2 separate regions of the Homo sapiens genome follow, and region 1 is linked to region 2. A link means that fine-mapping ties the variant in region 2 to the expression of a gene that starts in the linked region. Tissue or cell type: whole blood. Region 2 holds a variant in brackets; the other region holds the start of a gene. All regions are shown on one strand. Distances are from middle to middle.

The links. PIP is the estimated chance that this variant, and not a neighbour inherited with it, causes the effect.
Region 1: FBLN7 starts here. The variant in region 2 is fine-mapped to the expression of FBLN7 in whole blood (TOPMed, PIP 0.92).

The regions. Positions count from the first base shown.
Region 1 is chr2:112,135,318-112,140,463 of GRCh38, forward strand. FBLN7 (fibulin 7) reads left to right here and starts at 3,068. Exons shown (of 8, transcript NM_153214.3): 1 at 3,068-3,413. The coding sequence starts at 3,339. RefSeq lists an enhancer at 4,885-5,146.
Region 2 is chr2:112,175,123-112,180,268 of GRCh38, forward strand. FBLN7 (fibulin 7) reads left to right here. Exons shown (of 8, transcript NM_153214.3): 4 at 592-717. Among named protein-coding and RNA genes, the nearest start is that of FBLN7, 39 kb to the left of the region's middle. The variant C/A (reference allele first, on the strand shown) is at 3,147.

The DNA.
Region 1 (5,146 bases), 40 kb before region 2:
TACTTTCTGTAGACATGTTGAACCCCACCAAACCAATCCCCCGACACTCAGGAATATTCTCTTGAAAACTAAATAGAGGGGAAATAGAGGAATAAACTAGCTGATAAGGGCCAGGCATGGTGGCTCATGGCTGTAATCCCAGCACTTTGGGAGGCTGAGACGGGTGGATCACGAGGTCAGGAGTTCAAGACCAGCCTGGCCAAGATGGTGAAACCCCGTCTCTACTAAAAATACAAAAATCAGCTGGGCATGGTGGCAGGTGCCTGTAATCCCAGCTACTTGAGAGGCTGAGGCAGGAGAATAGATTGCCTCTGTGAGGCAGCAGAGGTTACAGTGAGCTGAGATCATGCCACTGCACTCCAGCCTGGGCAATAGAGTGAGACTGTCTCAAAAAAAAAAAAAAAAAAGGCTGATAGGCCCATTGTATTCAGTTAAAGGTGAGGGTTGGGGGCTTAAAGGTAGAGCACCCAGCTGATTTTCATGGGCTGTCTGCTTGTAGACAGCCTTGGTAGGTTCTGGACTTGATAGGCTCTGCCTTGATTACTGCAGATCCAGGGCAGCTGAGGACAAAGACAGAGAAAGGACAGTGCTGCTGGGGCAGTCAGATCTTAGAAGGTTCATTCAGACCAGATGCCAGAACACTTAGAGGGAAGGCAGCCATAGGGAAAGGGTTACAAATATAAATAATTACATAGGAAAAAAAATCCTGTTGAAACTTAGAAATATTTGAAAAGTAAAAACAAAAGCAAAAACCCAAGAAAACAAAAAACAACAACAACAAAAAAACAGAAAACCCCCCATTACTGTAAATAAAATTCCTGAAATGCTATGATCATGTATTTAATATAAGCAACATAGTAGCCCTAAAATGAGAGGTGGGATAAAGTCAAAGGTAGTCTGTCCTAGAAACAGCACCGCTCTGGGAGGGGGATCTTGAGACCAGAGTTTGCATTCCTTGGGCAAGTCAGTCAACCATGCCCCGATTCAGCTTCTTCATCTGTGAAATCAAGAATCTCTTCCAGCTTTATGACTCCACAGAAAGGGCAGGAGAAGAGAAAAGAAGGCTTGCTTACATCTGCCCGATGTCTGGTTACCAGCGCATAGCCAGAACAAGGCTGAGAGCCAGAACAGCTGGCCTTCCAGAGAAGGTCGCCATGTAAACACAAGGTGGGATAGGACACAAAATATTAATAAATGCAGCCACACTGACCAGGAGGAAGCTTTTCAAGGATAGGGCAGAGGACAGAGAGACAGAGAGGGAGCAGGGCACTGGCTTTTGGTACAGACAGCAAACACATGAGAGATCGAGGCAGAAAACCACCATCTCCACAGGCTGCCCTGGATCGGGCCATGCTGTCCCGTCCTCTCCACCTGGATAGGGAGAAGCAGGGGTATGACCATGTCTCTCTTCAGGATGTTCAACCAGGAATGCAAAATAAAATTACATGGATCCCTTGCAGGCTGCAGTGGCTCACACCTATAATCCCAGCACTTTGGGAGGCTGAGGCGGGTGGGTCATTTGAGGTCAGGAGTTCAAGACAAGCCTGGCCAACATGGTGAAAACCTGTCTCTACTAAAAATACAAAAATTAGCTAGGCGTGGTGGTGCATGCCTGTAGCCCCAGCTGCTTGGGAGGCTGAGGCAGGAGAATTACTTGAACCAGGGAGGCAAGGCTGCAGTGAGCTGAGATCAGGCCACTGCACTCCAGCCTAGGCAACAGAGCAAGACGCCGTCTCAAAGAAAAAAAAGATTTACATGGGTCCCGTTCCACCTCCTTTGCATGGGAAGGTTGGGGGAGCAGCACTGTAGGATTTCCTGGGCAACCAATGCCCAGGAGGCCAGCCTAAACCATGTCCCCTGCTTTTTGGGGCACTGGCTAGGTTCTGAATGTTGGTGTCTCCCCTAAATTTATATGTTGGAAACCTCATTCCCAAGATGATGGCATTAGGAGGTGGGACCTTTGGGAGGTGACTAGGTCATGAGTGCAGAGCCCTCAAAATTGGGATTAGTGCCCTCAGAAAAGAGGCCCCAGAGAGCTGCCTTTCCCCTGTGAGGACACGGGAACCAGAACTCTGGCCCTCGCCAAACACCTAATCTATTGACACCTTGATCTTGGACCTCCCAGTCTCCAGAACTGTGAGAAACACGTTCTATTGTTTATAAGCCACTCAGTTTATGGTATTTTGCTATAGCAGTTTGAAGGGACTAAGCCAGGACTCCAGCTTTCCTTTCTGGCCTCTGCTGGGAAACAGCTCCTGCTCTGTGGTCACAGTCTTGTGGGCTCCCCGTTCCCTGAGCTCTGAGTGGGCTCAACAAAGTGAAATGTGGAAGAGGAAAAAGAGATCTGGGGCTTGACCAGACTTGTGTGTCCCAGGACATCTGCAGTGACTGCCTTCAGAAAACCTTCCAGGAAGAACGTCAGTCATGCCTTCCGGGAGCTCAGGTCTGAGGCATCTGGTTGTACCACAGCCCTGATGGCAGGGGACTTCAGACTGCTCATGCCGGCCTGGCACTTCCTGATTCGACTTCAGCAAGGCAGGCAATGTTCTAGAACCTGACCTCCGATTTAAACTGAGTTTCTCCTTCCCTTGAGCAAGGAGGACAGTGAATCAGAAGGACGTAGATCCCCTCACTGTATCACTGTGTGTGTATCTACTCACTGTGCGTGCGTGTTCTCACGGCCCCATTGCATTATTTAAAGGGACACTAGTTTATTCGGATGGAGAGCTCAGTCCACCCCACGTCAAGCTTATGAAGCCCATTTCCTGGCCCCCTTCTAGGAATGTCGGGAGGAGGGTGTCGCGTGGGCTTTGAAGTAGGACAGACCTGGGTTTGGGTTTCTGTTCTGCCACTTGTCCTTGGTGACTGAGCCTCAGTCTACTTGGTTGGGAAATAGGACGGTCGGGAGTGAACCCGCCCAGGGTGGGCTTCCAGTCACCCGCACATATGCGGGGCACTGGCCGCCCATCCCTGCCAGGCCCCGAGGATGCCCGCGCTCGTCCTCGGCGTCGCGGGTTGGGCGCGCTCCCGGGCGCATTCCCGGCCGGGCAGCCCCTCCTCCCTCGTCCTTAGCCCAGGGGCCGGCGCCTCCCCGCCTCGCGCGGACTGTCTCGTGCGGGCAGCTGCGGGCGCACCTGGACCCTCGCAAGGCCCGGGCGGCGCCGATCCCCGCGGGACGCGCTGCGCTCGGGGCCTCCCGCCTCCCCCCCTGCCCCAGCCGCCCCCCGGCCGCGCGGCGCCCCGCACCCTGCAGGGACGGCTGCCGCATCGCTGGGACAAACTCGGCAGCGGAGGCAAAGTTATTTCCCCTCCCAGGCAGCGGGATTCCGACTGGCAAGATGGTGCCCAGCTCTCCGCGCGCGCTCTTCCTTCTGCTCCTGATCCTCGCCTGCCCCGAGCCGCGGGCTTCCCAGGTCAGTGTCCCTCCCGCCTCTCTCCAGGCCAGTGTCCCTCCCGCCTCTCTCCAGGCCAGTGTCCCTCCCGCCTCTCTCCAGGCCAGCGTCCCTCCCGCCTCTCTCCCCTGTCCCTCCCGCCTCTCTCCCCTGTCCCTCCCGCCTCTCTCCAGGTCAGTGTCCCTCCCGCCTCTGTCCCCTGTCCCGCGCGCCTCTCTCCACGCCAGTGTCCCTCCCGCCTCTCTCCAGGCCAGCGTCCCTCCCGCCTCTCTCCAGGCCAGCGTCCCTCCCGCCTCTCTCCAGGTCAGCGTCCCTCCCGCCTCTCTCCAGGCCAGCGTCCCTCCCGCCTCTCTCCAGGTCAGCGTCCCTCCCGCCTCTCTCCAGGCCAGTGTCCCTCCCGCCTCTCTCCAGGCCAGCCAGTGTCCCTCCCGCCTCTCTCCACGCCAGTGTCCCTCCCGCCTCTCTCCAGGCCAGTGTCCCTCCCGCCTCTCTCCAGGCCAGTGTCCTTCACGCCTCTCTCCAGGTCAGTGTCCCTCCCGCCTCTCTCCAGGCCAGCGTCCCTCCCGCCTCTCTCCAGGTCAGCGTCCCTCCCGCCTCTCTCCAGGCCAGCGTCCCTCCCGCCTCTCTCCACGCCAGTGTCCCTCCCGCCTCTCTCCAGGTCAGTGTCCCTCCCGCCTCTCTCCAGGCCAGTGTCCCTCCCGCCTCTCTCCAGGCCAGTGTCCCTCACGCCTCTCTCCAGGTCAGTGTCCCTCCCGCCTCTCTCCAGGCTAGTGTCCCTCCCGCCTCTCTCCAGGCCAGCGTCCCTCCCGCCTCTCTCCAGGTCAGCGTCCCTCCCGCCTCTCTCCAGGCCAGCGTCCCTCCCGCCTCTCTCCACGCCAGTGTCCCTCCCGCCTCTCTCCAGGCTAGTGTCCCTCCCGCCTCTCTCCAGGCCAGCGTCCCTCCCGCCTCTCTCCAGGTCAGCGTCCCTCCCGCCTCTCTCCAGGCCAGCGTCCCTCCCGCCTCTCTCCACGCCAGTGTCCCTCCCGCCTCTCTCCAGGTCAGTGTCCCTCCCGCCTCTCTCCACGCCAGTGTCCCTCCCGCCTCTCTCCAGGCCAGTGTCCCTCCCGCCTCTCTCCAGGCCAGTGTCCCTCCCGCCTCTCTCCACGCCAGTGTCCCTCCCGCCTCTCTCCAGGCCAGTGTCCCTCCCGCCTCTCTCCCCTGTCCCGCGCGCCTCTCTCCATGCCAGTGTCCCTCCCGCCTCTCTCCACGCCAGTGTCCCTCCCGCCTCTCTCCAGGCCAGCGTCCCTCCCGCCTCTCTCCAGGTCAGCGTCCCTCCCGCCTCTCTCCAGGCCAGCGTCCCTCCCGCCTCTCTCCACGCCAGCGTCCCTCCCGCCTCTCTCCACGCCAGCGTCCCTCCCGCCTCTCTCCACGCCAGTGTCCCTCCCGCCTCTCTCCACGCCAGTGTCCCTCCCGCCTCTCTCCAGGCCAGCGTCCCTCCCGCCTCTCTCCAGGCCAGTGTCCCTCCCGCCTCTCTCCCCTGTCCCGCGCGCCTCTCTCCACGCCAGTGTCCCTCCCGCCTCTCTCCAGGTCAGTGTCCCTCCCGCCTCTCTCCAGGTCAGTGTCCCTCCTGCCTCTCTCCAGGCCAGCATCCCTCCTTCCTCTCTCCCCTGTCCCGCGCGCAGGGGAGGCAGCACCAAGGCTGGGGGACCCGGGCTTGCCACTTTCCACTCGGATGCCTGGGTTGAGAGCTCGGAGCGATGCCTGGGCTGGGGTTC
Region 2 (5,146 bases):
AGGAAATGTCAAAAAACTCTTACCTGGTCAAGCACAGTAGGGCTTCTGGTTGGGAATTTGGAGAATTCATTTTCCCCAACCCTGGACATTCCAGTGGGCCATCCCTCCCCTTTATAACTGCACTGAATTTTGTTCCTGTTTAAAAATGTTTCTCCCAGGTGCTGGCTGATGGAGCAGAAGGGTTGTGGGTTACAGGGCCTGACTCAAAGGCAATGTGGGCAGATGCCCACAGGTAGCCACTTCTGTCTGGCTACAGCTGTCTACACTGCACCTTTGCAAATTAGAAAATGGTGCCTGTGGGTGGGGTATGGCCAGCTCATAGGCCAGCTCCTGCATGCAGAGCCCCAGGTGGGCAGTGTGTGCCTGGGTGCAGGGCCTGCTGAATGGAGATGCAATAGGGCTGCATATCAGCCCCATCGGCCCCCTGGCAGCTCTTGCGGGTGGAGAGGGTGGAAAGAGTGGGTGGGGTCAGGTAGAAAGTGGGAGTTCTCCTACAATGTAAAGGAAGTTAACCCTTCATCAGTTTTTTATTGTATTTGTTTTAGACCTAGAACTCACATCCGTATATTTGAAAATTATTTATCTTCCTAGGTATCAGTGAATGCTCCAGCCAGCCTTGTCAAAATGGTGGTACATGTGTAGAAGGAGTCAACCAGTACAGATGCATTTGTCCTCCAGGAAGGACTGGGAACCGCTGTCAGCATCAGGCCCAGACTGGTATGTAGCCACCATGGGGTTAGGTGAGGACATCCTGCTGTGGGGAGAGGAGGACCCTAGGCATAGGTCCCCAAATGCAGACATGTAGGGAGCTCAGTCCCCCACTCAAAGATGTAGCTTTTCCTCTCTGTTTCACATCCACCGATCCCTCTGGTTTTCTAAGGTGGTCACTTGACAGAGCTTAGCTCTTTGATGCAACCAGAGTTTTGACCCTTCTTATAGTAGAAAACACAAGCGCAAGAACTGACTCCCAACGTAAAAATCCCCTAGATTGGGAATGTGGCCCAAGAAGTTTCACTGTTGCCACCTTTGCTTGGTCAGCATTTCTTACGCCAGCAGAACCACCTTTTCTTTCCAGTGTTCCCATTACATCTTGCAAAATTAGCAGCTATTGATGCAGGCCCAAGTATTTTGAGAGCTGGATAACTATACATTTGACTGGTTTTGAGATTACTATTCACATCTTGAGTCTCAACATATCTCGACCCAGAGAGTCTAAGAAGTCACGTGGTGCCTGGTTTTGCATATGGCAAGAAAATCCAGTGATAAGGAATCTGTGGAGGATGGACAGGGGTTCCCGCACCATGATGCAACCAAGATTTCATTCAGCCCCAAAGATATCCTATTCCTTAGCCACAAAAGTCTGGTGTGTTATGCCTGTTTGTCTTTATTTCTGTATGAAATATCTGTGGGGGGAAGGGACATTGGGGCTAGTGCAGTGTCCAGTGGATAAGAGCTTTATCAATACTTATGATCCTGGCACTGGACCCAGCCCAAGCTCAGGTTTAAATAGTGCCCCAAGAGATTTGCTGCTTAATATGCCCTGATTCAGTTCAGCTGAGTCAGCTGGCTGGGCACTTTCTCAAAATGAGGCTGTCCTCCCGAGCTCAGAGGCCCCTTACAGCTCCTGTCCCTGGAACTGCTTTCTATGGAAACTGAGGCCAGAGACAGGGCTTTCTTGGAGACCTCACTGCCTCTCCCCTTGTTTACAAACAAGAGGGAAAAAGAAATGGGTTCCCTTCTGCCCTAAATATGCCAGTCCTGGTCACTGAATGTTCTAAACCCCACTCTTTAGGGTTTCCTCCCACTGTGGGATTTTTTTTTTTTTTTTAAGATGGGAGTCTCACTCTGTTGCCCAGGCTGGAGTGTGCAGTGGCACCATCTCAGCTCACTGCAACCTCCGCCTCCTGAGTTCAAGTGATTCTCCTGCCTCAGCCTCCCGAGTAGCTGGGATTACAGGTGTCTGTCACCACTCCTGCCTAATATTTGTATTTTTAGTAGAAACGGGGTTTCACCATGTTGGCCAGGCTGGTCTCCAACTCCTGACCTCAAGTGATCTGCCTGCCTTGCCCTCCAAAAGTGCTGGGATTACAGGTGTGAGCCACCATGCCCGCCCAAGGATCTTTAGACAATTGTTGCTCAGGTCCAGGGGGGCCTGTTATAAAGTGTCCCCATGGCCAGAATCTTCCCCAGGAATGGGAAGGAGGGGAAGCAAGCAGGCATATCCAAAGCCAGCTCCTATCCTCATAGTCTCCATGAACAGCCATCACGCATCTGGGCTCTTGCTCACCTTGTCCCTCAGCCTGACACCTTCCTTCCCATCAGCTGGCCCATGCCTTTCCAGTTCCCTGGAGGAGCATCCCTCCAATTCCTTTTTTAAAAATCCATTCACCCTATTTTTTATGATGATAAAACATATATATAACATAAAATTTACCAGTTTCATCCTTTTTAACTGTACAGCTCAGTGGCATTAATCACATTCACATTGTTGTGCGACCATCACCACCATCCAGCTCCAGAATTCTTTTTGTCTTGCAAAACTGAGCTTCTGTACCCATAACAGGACAACTCCCCATTGCCCTCCCCACAGCCCCTGGTAATCACCATTCATTCTTCTTTCTGTCTCTGTGAGTCTGACTGCTCTAGGGACCTCATCTAAGTAGAATCATGCAGGATTTGTCCACTTGTGTTTGATTCCCATCAATCCTTGAAAAACTTTCAGAAAAATAACATTTTTTCCTGATTAGAAATATAATTTGGCCAAGCATGATGACTCATGCCTGTAATCCCAGCACTTTGGGAGGCTGAGGTGGGTGGATCATTTGAGGTTGGGAGTTTGAGACCAGCCTGGCCAACATGGTAAAACCCTGTCTCTACTAACAATACAAAAAAAAAAAATAGCAGGGTGTGGTGACGTGCACCTGTAATTCCAGCTGTTCAGAGGCAGAGGCAGGAGAATCATTTGAATGCGGGAGACAGAGGCTGCAGTAAGCCGAGATCGTGCCACTGCACTCCAGCCTGGGTGACACAGCGAGACTCTGTCTCAAAAAGAAAGAAAGAGAGAGAGAGAAAGAGAAATTTATGTTCCTGGCAAAAACCAAAAATGTGAACACTTTAGAAAAGTACAAGAAATACAAAAAAAAAAA[C/A]CAAAAGAAAACAAACAAAAAAAAACCAGGAACAAAAAATAGTGGCCCATGAACAGACCAATAATGAGCTCTGAAATTGAATTGGTCATAAATAGCCTACCAACCAAAAAAAGCCCAGGACCTGACGGATTCACAGCCAAATTCTACCAGATGTACAAAGAAGAGCTGGTACCATTCCTACAGAAACTATTCCAAAAAACTGAGGAGGATGGACCTCTCCCCAACTTATTCGATGAGGCCAGAGTCATCTCGATACCAAAACCTGGCAGAGACACAACAAAAAAAGAAAATGTCAGGCCAATATCCTTGATGAACATTGATACAAAAATCCTCAACAAAATACTTGCAAACCAAATCCAGCAGCACATGAAAAAGCGAATCCACCATGATCAAGTAGGCTTCCTCCCCGGGATACAAGGTTGATTCAACATATAAAAATCAATAAATGTGATTCATCACATAAACAGAACTAAAAGCAAAACTACATGATTATCTCAATATATGCAAAAAGGCTTTTGATGAAATTCAACATCTCTTCATGTTAAAAACTCTCAACAAACTAGGTATTGAAGGAACAGACCTCAAAATAATAAGAGCCATCTATGACAAACTCACAGCCAACATTGTACGGAATGGGCATTCTCCTTGAAAACTGGCATAAGACAGGGATGCCCTTTCTCATCACTTCTATTCAACGTAGTATTGGAAGTCCTGGCGAGAGCAACAGGCGAGAGAAAGAAATAAAGCGCATCCAAATAGGAAGAGAGGAAATCAAACTATCTCTGTTTGCAGATGACATGATTCTATATCTAGAAAATCCCAAAGTCTCGGCCCAAAAGTTCCTTCAACTGATAAACAACTTCAGCAAAGTTGCAGGATACAAAATCAATGTAGAAAAATCACTAGCATTCCTATATACCAACAACAACCAAACTGAGAGCCAAATCAGAAAGACAATCCTATTCACAATTTGCCACACACACACAAATAAAATACCTAGGAATACAGCTAACCAGGGAGGTGAAAGATCTCTATAATGAGAATTACAAAACATGGCTCAAAAAAATCAGAGAAGACACAGACAAATGAAAAAACATTCCATGCTTATGGATACAAAGAATCAATATCATTAAAATGGCTACACTGCCCAAAACAACTTACAGATTCAATGCTATTCCTATCAAACTACCAAAGACATTCTTCACAGAACTAGAAAAAAATTACTTTAACATGCATATGGAACCCAAAAAGATCCTGAATACCCAAGGCAATCCTAAGCAAAAAGAACAAAGCTAAAGGAATCACATTACCCAACTTCAAACTATACCACAAGGCTACAGTGACCAAAACAGCATGGTACTGGTACAAAAACAGGCACGTAGACCAATGGAACGGAATAGAGAGCACAGAAATAAGGCCACACATCTATGACCATCTGATCTTTGACCAAGCTGACAAAAACAAGAATGGGGAAAAGACTCCTATTCAATAAATGGTGCTGGGATAACTGGCTAGCCATATGCAGAAGACTGAAACTGAACCACTTCTTACACCACAGACAAAAATCAACTCAAGATGGATTAAAGAGTTAGATGTAAAATCCAAAACTACAAAAACCCTGGAAGACAACGTAGGCAATACCATCCTGACAGAGGAATGGACAAAGATTTCATGACAAAGATACCAAAAGCAATTACAACAAAAGCAAAAATTGACAAACGGATTCTAATTAAACTTAAGAGCTTCTGCATAGCAAAAGAAAGTATCAAAGGAGTAAACAGACAACCTACAGAATGGGAGAAAATATTTGCAAACTATGCATCTGACAAAGGTCTAATATCCAGCGTCTATAAGGAACTTAAATTTACAAGAGAAAAACAAACAACCCCATTAAAAAGTGGGCAACGTACATGAACAGAAACTTCTCAAAAGAAAACCTACAACAGGCCAACAAGCATATGGAAAAAAAAGCTCCATATCACTGATGATTAAAGAAATGC